Linked DNA regions of Homo sapiens: all the other regions are linked to region 1. Evidence: fine-mapped expression QTL. A gene starts in region 1. Each other region holds a variant in brackets. All regions are shown on one strand. Distances are from middle to middle.

What was found. PIP is the estimated chance that this variant, and not a neighbour inherited with it, causes the effect. A credible set is the group of variants that fine-mapping cannot tell apart.
Region 2: its variant is the best candidate, but not a certain one, in a credible set for the expression of VAV2 in whole blood (INTERVAL, PIP 0.77).
Region 3: its variant is the best candidate, but not a certain one, in a credible set for the expression of VAV2 in whole blood (TOPMed, PIP 0.61).

The regions. Positions count from the first base shown.
Region 1 is chr9:133,989,916-133,994,442 of GRCh38, reverse strand. It overlaps VAV2 (vav guanine nucleotide exchange factor 2), which reads left to right and starts at 2,119. Exons shown (of 30, transcript NM_001134398.2): 1 at 2,119-2,368. The coding sequence starts at 2,165. RefSeq lists enhancers at 807-996, 893-1,620, 2,349-3,076, 3,077-3,804, 3,805-4,527 and silencers at 1,407-1,716, 1,817-1,916, 1,977-2,126, 2,397-2,486, 2,527-2,966.
Region 2 is chr9:133,853,988-133,857,987 of GRCh38, reverse strand. The region is part of intron 3 of VAV2 (vav guanine nucleotide exchange factor 2); the gene reads left to right. Among named protein-coding and RNA genes, the nearest start is that of SARDH, 120 kb to the right of the region's middle. RefSeq lists enhancers at 1-490, 3,071-3,571, 3,572-4,000. The variant C/T (reference allele first, on the strand shown) is at 2,127.
Region 3 is chr9:133,953,707-133,957,706 of GRCh38, reverse strand. The region is part of intron 1 of VAV2 (vav guanine nucleotide exchange factor 2); the gene reads left to right. Among named protein-coding and RNA genes, the nearest start is that of VAV2, 37 kb to the left of the region's middle. RefSeq lists enhancers at 119-168, 219-328, 1-509, 3,216-3,505. The variant C/A (reference allele first, on the strand shown) is at 1,760.

The DNA.
Region 1 (4,527 bases):
CTGGGGAAAGAGACATTTAGTGCATCAATGCGCCGGCGGTCCAGGCGAGGGGTTGGGAGAGTGGGTAGCTCTTCTTCCTCTCTGAGCCCTTTCTGTCCCAGCACAGTGGGAAGCCTCTGGGTAATTTATCCGTCCATTCTTCACAAGCAAGTCCAGTGGGAGCCGGGTCTCCCCGCTCTAGAGAGGAGGGGATGAGGCTTTGCAGGAGGAGGGATCAGTGTAGGCTCTCAGATGGGGCTGGAGGGCCCCGCTCAGGTTTCACTCCTGGCTTTCTGATTTCTTAGGGAGATGCTGATGGGTCCACCTGCTGCCCCATCTTGCTTCGGTGAGGAAAGCTCTCCCCCTTGCCCTAAAGGTGCCCACTGCTGCTTCCTCGGGGAAGGGCAAGAGACCTGAGCCCCCGCCTCACCAGCCACCTGGCCTGAGTTTACTGCTGCAGGGGCCAGCTCCTTCCTGACCTCTCTCTACGGGCCAGACCCTAAGCTGGGACCCCCTGCTTCCACCTCAGTGGAGAAGGGGTGAGTCTGACTCTGCAGAGACCAATTTCCAGGACAGGACCCCCATCGGAGGCCCTGGGCCCAGGGGACCCTCTCTGCGCTCGCATCCCCGTTCCGGCCCCTGCGCAGGGAAGCCACGGGGTAAGGGGTCCGGGGGCTGCAGTGCAGCCCCAGCTCATACAGGCCCAGGATTCCACCGGAGTCCAGGGTGGGAGCCCTCAGACACCGCACCCCAGCCTCCGGGCTGAGCCAGTCTCAGAGAAGGGCTTGGACTTGCCTGGTGTCCCCCAGTGAATCAGCAGTGAAAACCCGCGGTTCCCGGCAGCTGAGCCAGGATCCATATAATTTCAGTTGCAGAATCTGTTTGTCCTTGAAGCCCCTCCTACCGTCACACGTTGCCAGCTGGACAGACCGCGCCCCCACCACCCAGGGTGTGGCCTAGAAGGGAGATCAGGGCGGATCAGCACCGGGGCCGGCTGCGACCCTGGGCCGGAGAGCACCTTCCTGCCCTCACTCATGTCACGCATTCCGCCCTGGACGCCAGGAACTGCCCGCTGGGCAGCTGCGAGTGGCCAGGACTTTGGCCAAAAGCTGGGGAATCCTGGCCTTTATGCAGGGTCGGGGGTCTTCCTATGGGCCCCCGGCCAGGGCGGAGGACAGGAAGAGGGCTCTGGGAGTCCTGGGCCCGTGTGCCTTCAGCCTCAGCCTCGGGTATCCCGCCGGGGCGGCTTGATGGGCCAAGGGGGCTCAGTAAGCTTCGGCCCAGCCCGGTGCCCTCTCCCGAGTCTGTCGTTACCGAACGGCCATGCGAGGGCGCCCAGCGCGACAGGGACCACCTCCTGACCTCCACGGAGGACCAAAGGCACCCGGGGGGACGCCCGGCCATCACTCCACGGGCGAGGTCGCTCCCCCAGGGAGAAGGGCTCCCCAAAGTCCGAGCGCCCTTGGAGAAAGTCGGCCGGACCTGGGCCTGCGCCGCAACCCCCGCCCACCGCAACTTTCGCGGGCGGTAGCGGGGCAGGAAGTGGGGGGGCGGGGGCGGCGCTTGGGACACGGGGAGGTGCCAGGCGAGTGCTCCGGCCCCGCCCCTGCCCCGCCCGGCCGTGGCCGCGCCCCCTGCGCCCCCAGCGCCCCGGAGCCGTGGAGCCGCCGAGCCGCCGAGTCGTCGAGTCGCAGCGCCGGGCGTGGGGACTGCGGGTGGGGCGAACAAAGCGGCGGCGACGCGGGCGGCCCAGGCCCGGGACGCGCGGAGCGAGCGACCCCGCCGGGCCTTTGTCTCGGGCGGGGCAGGAGCCGCGGCGGCCGCGGGGCGCCCCGAGCGCAGAATGCGGCGCCCGGCGGCGCGGATTGGGGAGCGCTGCGGCGACTGGCTGCGTGGAGCCCGGCCCGGGGCCCGCAGGCACTTGCGTGTGTGAAGCGGGGAGATCCGGCGCGCTGCCCGTTGCCCGCCCCGCGGCCGCACGTGGGCGGGAGCGGCGGCCCGAGAGGAGCCCGAGGAGTAGGAGGAGGAAGAGGAGGGGACGCACGGCGGCGCAGCGGGGGACCTGGGGCAGCCCGCGCGAAGCCCCGCCCCGGCCCTGAGCCCCGCGCGCGCGCGGGCGGGATGCCCCGCGGCCGCTGCACTTTGGCTCGAGCACTGCCCTGAGCCGGTCGGGCCCGCGGGCGCCATGGAGCAGTGGCGGCAGTGCGGCCGCTGGCTCATCGATTGCAAGGTCCTGCCGCCCAACCACCGGGTGGTGTGGCCCTCGGCCGTGGTCTTCGACCTGGCGCAGGCGCTGCGCGACGGGGTCCTTCTGTGCCAGCTGCTGCACAACCTCTCCCCCGGCTCCATCGACCTCAAGGACATCAACTTCCGGCCGCAGATGTCCCAGGTGAGCGCCCGGCGGGCGGGAGGGCCCCGGGGAGGCGGCGTTCGCGCTGCCCGACGCGCGGACTGAACGCGGAGGTCGCAGCGGCGGCGGCCCAGGCGCCCTGGCTGGGGCGGCCGGGCTCCGGGACGCGGGCGGGCGGCTGGAGGGTGCGCCCCGGGCCTCCGAGACGCGACCTCAGGAGGCGCGAAGTTGGCCAAAGTCCCCTCAGCCTGGGTCGCGCCGCCGCCGCCCGCGGGCACTGCTCTGGTGCGCCGGTTCCGCGGTCTGCGCGGCCTGGGATGGGGGAGGCTCCGGCGCTGCGCTCGCTCTGCGGGGCCCTGCGAGTGGCCCCTCATTTCCCAGGGAGCCTGCCGAGCCGGGTGTGCGCGTCGTGGGTCGCATCCTTGGGCCTCGCGCCTCCTGGCCGGACGCCGGTGGAAGAGCGGGCGCGGTCGCTGCGCCGGCCCGGGGCGCGGCTGGAGGGCCCGGGAGGGGCGCGGGGCGGGAGCCCTCGGGGCCGGAGGGAGCTGGGTTGGCCCCGGGCACCGCCCCCTCGCCGGCCTCCGCCTCTTCCCGGACCCGGACCCGGGCCACTTGGCGCCAGTCCTGGCTCCCGGGTCGAGCCGCCTCGAGGATCCCCAGGGCCACTTGGCCCCAGTCCTGGCCCCCATCGCTTTCCCAACACCCCCACCCCTCCTTCGGGCGCTGAGTGTGGCCTTTGTCGCGGCGGAGGCACGCGTGCGGCCGCAGGGCCAGGCAGGAAAATGCCTGCCCAGCCGAACGAAGCTGCTTTTCTTGGCCTCTTAAGAGGGAACTTGGCTAAGACTTGAGAGAATCGAGGCTTCCGTCCTGTTCTCCGGGGGTCGCGGAATCCTTACCGGGAGCAGCTTAGAAGAGGTCGGGGGAGGCAGAGCGGGTGGCAGCCGGGTCCACCCAGCGCCGAGGAGGTGCGGTCTTCCAGCCAGCTCAGCAGCCCCTCACCGCGCGCAGTGGCAACTCCATGTGGAGAGGGACCATTCACCAGTGGGACTTAGGACGTGGTTCCTGGGAAGGAGGGAGAGTGAGTCACCAGCGATTCCAGGCTGGGCAGCGAGGCCTCTGCCCTTTGGCGGTGACTGCGTTTCCTAGGAGACCGGGCCTTTCTCTGCCGGGTTGGGGGGCGCTGACAAAGGCAAGCCCAGAGGGGAAGGGGCCGCCTTCCCACTGGGTAATGATTACCCAGCACTGCCTGGACCGGCTTAGCAGGAGCCCTCAGAGGCCTCCCTGGGAGCCAGCGCCTCTTCCCGCAGGATGTCAGTGGTCAGGTGCAGGTGGCGGGGGTGGCGGTCACTGCTGCAGAGGGCTTCCCCGGATCTGTTCTCAGAGCCCCACGGGGACTGGGAAGTCTGGACTCCATTTTATGGCTGGAGAAACTGAGGAGAAGGGTAGCTGTTGGGGAGCAGGGCTGGGCCTCGAACCAAGGTGGCTGCCTTTGATATGAGTTCCAGGGGCTGCCCAGGCTGACTTGCTCGGGCAGGATTCCCTGCTGCTTGCAGGCTGGGGCTCAGGGCAGAGGCAGGGCAGCTGGGTCCGCACAGAGGAGGCTTGGGAGGAGCCCAGCCTTGCCTGGTGGACTCGCTGGGTCCGGGGGCTGCCCCTCCCCAGCTGTGGTTTGGGAAGATGGGAAGAGGAGGGGGCCGTGGCTGTGGCAGGTGGCTTGGCTCAGCTCCTGCACTGGAAGTTCAAGCCAGAGACTTCCTGGGGTCTCTGGAGCCATTGGCCAGGCAGCAATACGAACCCTGACAGAGGCCCCTTGAGCCCTGCTGCTGGGGGGTGGACGGGTGTCTAGGGGTCCCGCTGCTGGGCCGGTAGAGGGGTGTTTAGGGGCCCTGCTGCCGGACTCGTGGAGGGCGTGTAGGGGCCTGGATGGTAGGAGGACCAGATGGGTGTGTGTCTGTGTGGCTCTCCGCTCTGATTGAATCCTGGCACTGTCCCCTCCCAGGTAGGCAACGACCTCCAGAGCCTCAGTTTCCCCATCTCTGTCATGAGAACAGTCATAGCAGTCCCCTCGTAGCCATGCTGTGAGGATTTGCTAAGGGCAGGCACAGAAGGCACACCCTTCGCACAGTGCCCAGGAAATGACCGTCACCTGGACTGTGGCACGTAGTGCCCTGTGTCGCTGAGGCTGATCTTGCCATCCA
Region 2 (4,000 bases), 140 kb after region 1:
GGTGTTTGCAGGCCAAAGGGAAGGGCCTCCTGGGCGCAGAGCGAGGCTTTGCAGGAAGACCTCTGCAGGCCCTCCTCCCCGGGGCCTGGCTTTCCTGCCCTTCTCCTCCACCCTCCCTCCTCTGAGCCCCACTCTGGGACTTTTCCTGGGTCCTTTCCCTCTGCAGCCCTTGGGGTTGAGCGCAGACCTCCACTGGTTCACACGCTCACCCGGGAGCTCAGGAGACAGGTGACAGGCAACCCTCCCAGGCAGCCCCACTTGGTGGCTGCGTCTGAGCAATGTCCCACCTTGCTCCGGATGGGCTGGGATTTCCATGGGGAATTGAACCTTCTGGGGGCAGCCACCAGCACTTCACAAGACACTATTTCATTTCGAGCGTTTTGTAGTGTTAGTGATTAGCAAAAGGTTCTAGTTTAACACAACCCTTTCCTTCTTGAAAACCCACAAGCCAAGCCCACAGCCCTGAAGAATCTCTCCCTCATTTCATGGCTGGGTAGGAGCCCAACGTGCTCCTTCAAAAAATCATTTTCACAACCCTTGCACTTTGCATAATGAGCTGATTTTCCATAAAAGCCCCAATTATACTTCTCAGAGGCTGATGAATTGGAGACTTAATCTAAGAATCCCGCCCTGGTGCCGGCTGGGGGATCAAACGTGTTGGGGAAGCGGGGCAAGGGGGAGGATTGTGGTTGTAGAGTGGGAGAGGGGTTTGTGGAAGGCACCCAGCGAGGCGTGTGGGGATGTGGGTCTTGCTGTGGCCAGAGCTAGCCCTCCAGATTGGGGGTGCCCTAATTTGGGGTCATCACAGCTCTGAACGGCTGGGAGGGAGGAGATGGTGAAGGGTAGGACTTCCTGAGAAGGAAACCGAAAGGTGTCCTCAGGCTGGGAGGTCAGGTCCCATGAAGGAAGCTTCTGTCAGCCAAATGACCTTGGGCAGGGATGCTCTTGGAACCTTTGTCTCTTCTGTAGGCTGGGAGCATGACTCTGCCTCGCGGGGTTGCTCTGTGTCTGTGCATCGTGCAGCGCAGCACCTGGTCCTTGTGGAAGGCCCGCGGCTGCTAGGTGGATGTCCTAACCCCCAAACCCTGAGAGTGTGACGAGGAAAAGGGTTTTCGCAGATGTAAATACACATAATTTTAAGAGGGACGCAGGAAGGTCAGAGTCAGAAAAAGGAGATGTGACGGCAGAGTTAGAGCGATGGGGCTGTGGGCCCAGGAATGCAGGCAGCTTCGGAAGCTGGAAAAGGTAAGGGACAAATTCTCCCCGGCACCTCCTGAAAGGGACCAGCCCCTCGATACCTTGACGCCAGCCCCTAAGACCCGCTTCAGACTTCTGACCCCCTGAACTGTAAGAGTCTGTGTTGCTTGAAGCCACCAACTCTCCAACTCTCTGGTGACCTGTTAGAGCAGGAGCAGAGCCCCCTGGATTGGCTGGGAGGCTGTCTGAAGGCCCAGCTATGTGGCGTGTCTGGGCACATATCAGCATGGGGTCCCAGTGGGGGGCACATACCAGCATGGGGTCCCGGTGGGGGGCACATACCAGCATGGGGTCCCGGTGGGGGGCACATACCAGCATGGGGACCCGGTTGGGGCTCAACCCTGGCTCCTCACTGGGCTGGGCTCCTGGCTTTGATTGTCTCATCCTGGCCCAGCCCTGCCACCCTCTCTTCTGCTTTCTGACTTGTAAAAATTGAAATACATTCATATCACATAAATGTAACCCTTGTAAAGTACGCAATTCAGTGGCATTTAGTACTTTCACCATGTTGTGCAACCACCACCTCTATCTGCTTTCACAACATCTTCACACCCCAGGAAGAAACCGGTCGCCATGAGCAGTCACCGCCCTCCCCAGCCTCAGGCAGCCCCCAGCCTGCTTTCTGTTTGCCTGTTCTGGATGTTTCATGTCCATGGAATCATACGGTGCGTGCCTTTCGCACGTGGCTTCTCCCACCCCGCATCTTGTTTTCAAGGTTCACCCAGCCGTAGCCGGTCATTGCGTCATTCCTCTTTATGGCCGTGGAACATTCCAGTGTGTGGCTAGGCCATATTTTGCGTATCCGTTTATCACGTGATGAACTCTGGCCTGTTTCCACCTTTTGGCTCCTGTGACTAGCATTGCTGTGA[C/T]GGCTGCAAGGCAGGGGACAGGGGTCAGGCTGAGGTTGGAGTGAGAGAAATGGAAGTAAGCTGGAACTTCCTGCTTCAATTTGAAGTGAATTCTCAGAATATCAGACATACCCGTATTGAATCTAAGCACGACAAAGCATTAGGAACTGGAAGCAGTGACCTCGCATTTCCTTATGGCTTCAAGGACCCACCTTTTGGTCTTCCCATGTGCGGGGGGAGCTGGTGGCGGGTGGCAGGCTTTATCCCGGAGCACTGGGCAACGAGACCTAAGATGCGGCTCGTGCAGGGAGAGGCCGGGTGCCCTCCCGGGATACGGAGGCAGCTTGCAGAGACAGCCTCTTGCTGAGTTCTTTCCTTTTAGCCTCTGCTCCTGCAGTGGCCGGGAGAGCACTGGAACCCCGTGCCTTGCTGGCTGGCCCTGATAATGAGAAAGTCTGTTTGTGCAGTGGTGAGGGCTGCGTCCTTGACTTCCACTCCCAAACCTGGTTTTGCCTTCCCAAATCACCTACAAGGTACCAAATACCTCTCATGTGAGACATCTCAGCCGGAGGCTCCGTGAATGGGCCTTGGCAGACTCTGCAGTTCCCACACCTCCGTGAACGAATGTGCTATCCTCTCTGCACACTGTGAGCCAAGGTGAAGGGTCCGCACGCCAACACCTTGTCCTGCCCCACGAGTCCCGGCCTCTTCTCCCCTGAGTCTTTGCTGTGTTTGAAGACATTGCTGTGGCTCCTGTAGCCTTCTCTCTTGGGCACAGCATCCCCTGCTCTCTCCACTCTCTTCCATCCGGGCTGGTGTCCCTTTTTCTTCCATCTGGGCTGGTGTCCCTTTTCCCATCTGGTGTTGCCTGCTTAATTCCAGGTAATTGGGCTGAGAGGAGATGGGGACGGAAGGTGGCAGTCATTATATGCTTAGCAGCTCATCCCGCCAGCAAGATGGGTTTAATTGTCCCACCTGGTGACATCAAACATCCTGGCCACCTGTCCTCAGTGGGTCTGCTGTGAGGGGACAGGATGACATGTGAGTCCCTGGGCCAGCCTAATTGGAGAGTCTTTTTTTTCCTTTTCTTTCCTTTCGTTACAATAATGGATTCAACCTCCTCTGCATAGGGAGTGGGAGGGGAGTAATTGGAAGACATTAAACTCCTTCCTGGGGAGGGGAGGTCAGAAGAGGCCACCTTTGGATTGCTGGGCTTTGAGGCTGGGGTCTGGCCCCCTCCAGCCTGCTTCTGGTCACAGCGGCCAGCTCTCTGAAGGGTAGGCTCGAGTCACCAGCTGGCTTGCTCCATCAGTCTGGCACCTCTTCCACACCCCAGGCCTCTGTTGCCCTGGTCAGTAGCACAAGCCAAGGGCAACTCAGTGAGGAGTAGCAGTGGGCAGCCCCAGTTCTCTGGCCTGGCATGGTCACTGCCTCATTCGCACCACTGCTCCTCTTTTGCATTCGTCCAGCCATGGCTGGGGCCTCCAAGTTTAGGCAGAACAAACTGTGTTAGATGGTGCGTGTGTATGGGTGTGCGCGTGTGTGTATGTACATGTGCACATGGGGGTGTGTGTGCAGGTGCACATGGGTGTGTGTGTGTGCATATGGGTATGTGCGTGTGTGTGTGCAGATGAGTGCATGTATGTGTGCAGGTGCACATGGGTGTGTGTGTGCATTGCAGATTTGTGTGTGTGCAGGTACATGGGGTGTGTGTGCATATGCAGATGTGTGTGTGCAGGTGCAAGGGGTGTGTGTGTGCAGGTGCAAGGGGTATGTGTGTGCATGTGCAGATGGGGGTGTATGTGCAGGTGTGCAGGTTCATGGAGTGTGTGTGTATGTGCAGATGGGTGTGTGTGTGTGCACACGTGTGTGTATATATGCTCATGTGCCCACAC
Region 3 (4,000 bases), 36 kb after region 1:
CAGGCAGGGTGTCCCGGCTGAGGTGGGGCCAGCTGTGACGGTGACAGCGGGTGCAGGGAACTCAACATTCCTCCATTTCCTGCTCTGCCCACGGGGATGACGTCCCTCTTGCCCTGGAAGGTACCAGGCCCGCATGTCCCTGGCCTCCCCTCCTCGCCCTGCCCTGCAGCCGGGGAGGCAGGGAGCTGGGACACCTGTGCTGTCAGCGAAGGGGCACCAGGACGCAATATGCCATATTATTCCCAGTAGTCAAATATGTAGAAAACACCACACACACATAAAAAACCCCTAAAAACCCAGAGTCAAGAGACGACAGAAAAACGCCCTCAGTGGTTAGTGGTGTTTTAGGATGGGAGTTCTTGTCGGTTTCATGTTATTCTACTTCCCTGCCCTCATCCAGGCAGGGTTATTTCTATACTGGGAGAAAAAAACAAACCCGTTTCATCCCAGGGAGCAGCGTCCTGGGCACACATCCTTCCCTGGTGAAATGAGACCGGACCTGCAGCAGCTGGTACAGGGGAGGCCCGTAACTGCCAGGCCGAGCCTCAGTTTCCCCACCTGGTAAAGCAGGGACGATCATCCTAACCGGGAGAGCACCAGAGGGTAGGCTTGCACAGAGTGAGGAACCAGAGAGACACTGGTGGCGTTGGAGAGAGTCCTGGGTACCCCGGGCAGGTGGGGAGCTGGGTGGGGAGCTGGGCAGGTGGGTGGGTGCTGCAGTCTGCCCTTTTTGTGACTGCAAACAGGTGCGCCCAGGACTGGAGTTCAGCTCCCTGCTGAAGTACCAGCTCTGGCCCAGCTTTCCTGCTTGAGGACGGCCGGGTTTCCTGCCTGGCCTGTCCCCCACAGAGGGCTCTGTCCCAGGCCCTGGCAGGGGCAGCCTCCCTCCCACTGGGCTCCCGCCTGGGTGGGGGCGGAAGGCGAGGCTGCAGCTGCAGCATTCCTGACCTTGGCTGGCCCAGCTGTTGGCCTGGCAGCAGGGAATCCCCCTCCCGCTCCCTCGCCCCCTGGTGCTCTGCCCACCAGCCGAGGGGCCTGGTGCTGGTTCGCCTGGAATTTCCAGAAAGTACAGCTTCTCAGTTGATCTTCGCATTTTCTGACTTCTCAGGAACTAACTGGCTGCGTGCTTTTTATACATTCCCAGGACTCCCTCCTCCCTAACCCAACCCAAAGCTGAGATAACTTTTTAAGAAATTCTAAAAGTAATGTCTACTCGTTGGAAAAAAAACAAAACGAAACAAAACAAAGCAAAAGAAGAAACAACTCAGAAAGGTAGAAAGACAGAGTACCCTAGACACCCTTTCCCCACCAGGCCCCCAGACCCGCTGGGCCCAACCCCACAGCTGAGAACCAGAGACCCTCCCCAGGGGCTTGGGCTGAGGGTCACAGGGTAGGGAGGGGCTGCAGGGCCCAGGGGAGGCTGGGTAGACGAGGGGATCATGGCACCTCTGGAGATCATCGAGTTCCTGACTTGCAGACCTGTTTTTAATTGTCAGAACCCCCTTCCCTCCCTCTCTCCCTGTGAACCAGTGAGGAAGCTCCCTCCTTCTCAGGAATCCAGGGAATTCATTCAGAGCCACTGGGTTGGGGAAACTGAGGCTCCAGGAGGGTCAGCGACTTGTCCAGCGTCACCTGGGAAGCTGTGCTTTGTGCCTCCTGGCCCCGTGGGCTCCAGGTCTTGACTCTGCGAGTAAGCAGGGAAGGAGCAGATGGGCAGTGAGGTGCTGGCTGCCCGTCTGAGAGCTCCCCGGAGCGGGGG[C/A]CTCCAGCAGGGGCCGTGCCTTTGTGCTGAGCGGAAGCGGCAGGAACTGAGCTTCACGGAGCAGCCTGAGCTGGAGGGTTTAGAGGGCTCCCCTCGGGCTGGGGGAGGCCAGAGCTGTGGGGAGGAGTGGGGAGGAGTAGGAGTGGGAGTGGAGTGCAAGTGGGGGGGTGGGGAGGAACGTGGGGGGGGCGTTGGGGGGAGTGGGAAGCAGCGTGGGGGGAGTGGGAAGCAGCGTGGGGGGAGTGTGGGGGAGTGGGGAGGAGCTTTGGGGGGAATGGGGAGCAGCATGGGGTGAGTGGGGATAGTTGGAGGAGCGTGGTGGGGAGGGGGGAGGAGTGGGGGTGTGGGGAGGATCATGGGGGGAGTGGGGAGAAAGGAGGTGGGGAGGACCGTGGGGAGTGGGGAGGAGCATGTGGGGAATGGGGAGGAGCTTGGGGGGCATTGGAGGGACTGAGGAGCATGGGGAGAGTTGGGGCAGCATGGCAGGGGGAGTGGGGAGTATGGGGAGAGTGGGGAGAAGCAGGGGGGTGGGGAGGAGTGTGGGGAGTGGGGAGGAGCGTGGGCGGGGAGTAAGGAGGAGTGTGGGGACCGTGCTTCCGACTCAGCTTCCGCAGCCAGGAGCCTCGCCTTGGCATCGGGTATGGGGCCACACTCCCTGGCTGGGCTTGTGGAGGGTGGCATGACTATGTTGCTCCCTGTGGGGTCCCCAGAATCTGGGTGATTGAAGGTTTAGGACCTGAAGGGGCAGGAGCTCCCCACAGGAAGCAGAGTCTGGCTGGAAATGGCCTGGTCAGGTTCTGCCCTTCCTGTACCCTTGGCCGAGCCTGGAGGCGACCTCACCGCTGCCTCCCATCTGCAGGGGTGCCCTAGTTTCTCATGGTGTGGGTGTCTGTGGGGTAGCCGGAGGAAGGAGTGTCTGCCTTCCTTTTTCCTCACCTCAGTGCACTTGCATTCATTGCACGCAAACAGCAGTATAATGAAAACGAAGTACATTTAAACAACAGGAAAAATCTGTTTACATCTTACCCTCCACCTGTTTGGAGTTCAGAATGATTTATCTCGGTCCTTGCCCTCCTGCAGATGTATTTTTGCTTAGCTTTATTTATCGTAATGCAGACACACACTGCACATACATACACTGGTACATACATCATGAGCATGCACACATACATGTGCACACACATGAACACATGCACGCCTGTACACCCCTAAGCACCTGCGCACCCCCACATGTATGTGCATGGGCACCCCACACGCATACACATGAGGACACACACATCACAGACCTTGCCCTGCTCGAGCATCAGCAGCATCCCCCGCCCGCCCCACAGGTGTGTGGCACATGTAAGTGCTTGGCTGCAGTGCCACAGCTCCCGCTCCCCCCAGCCTCCCATGGCTGGACCTGCGATGCCTTCTCCGGAAGCCTTCAGGCGTGCGTGGATTTCACTCAGATTCACTGCGCACTTGCGATGTGCTGCTGCGGCACTGAGTACTTTGGGTCCTTTCCAGCACCAGGCGAGAAAGCTCCTTGAAGTGCAGGCATCTCTCCTGTTGGGCGTCTCACGCGCACTTGCTCCTCCTTGTGCCTTGCCGCCCCATGGTGACAGAACTGATTTGGCAGCCTGGGCCATGCATGCAGGGCCGCAGGCCCTCAGCAGGTGCTGGTGGGCGGATGGACAGATGGGCAGATGGACAGAGGGACACCAGGCACATGCCGCTTCTCAGAAATCCCTGGAAATGACTGGGATGGTAACAGAACATCACAATTGACTCTTTCTTCTCGAAATGATGGGTGCTAACCACGGAGTGATTCCCCAGCAGCAGACAGGCGCAGTGCTTTCGGTGACGGTTTCGGCCGTGTTTGTTGCACGTTGAGAAGGGTGTTTTACATCCCATGGCGTGTATAGTGCTGGGATCTTAAGAATGTCACACATGTGCAGTGGGTTGTCCCACATGTGGAGCCACCTGCCTGTGCAAGGGGTGGTGGGAGGCGCTGCCTGTCAGGTGCTGGCTGTAGCCTCTGGCAAGCAGTGGGTTTTTCTGCAGAGGGAGGACACCTAGGGATGGAGGCCCACAGGTCTTGGTTTTGGGGTACTCGGGCCAGGTGCCTTCTTTGGAGACAGGGAGGCAGCTGTTGGACATGCAGGCCTGGGAGCCGGGGTCATGGGAGCTGGGTTTCCCAGGGTGGGTGTGGGGGACCTTCAGGATTTGAACCTGCATCTCCCTGCCGGAAAGGTGCCC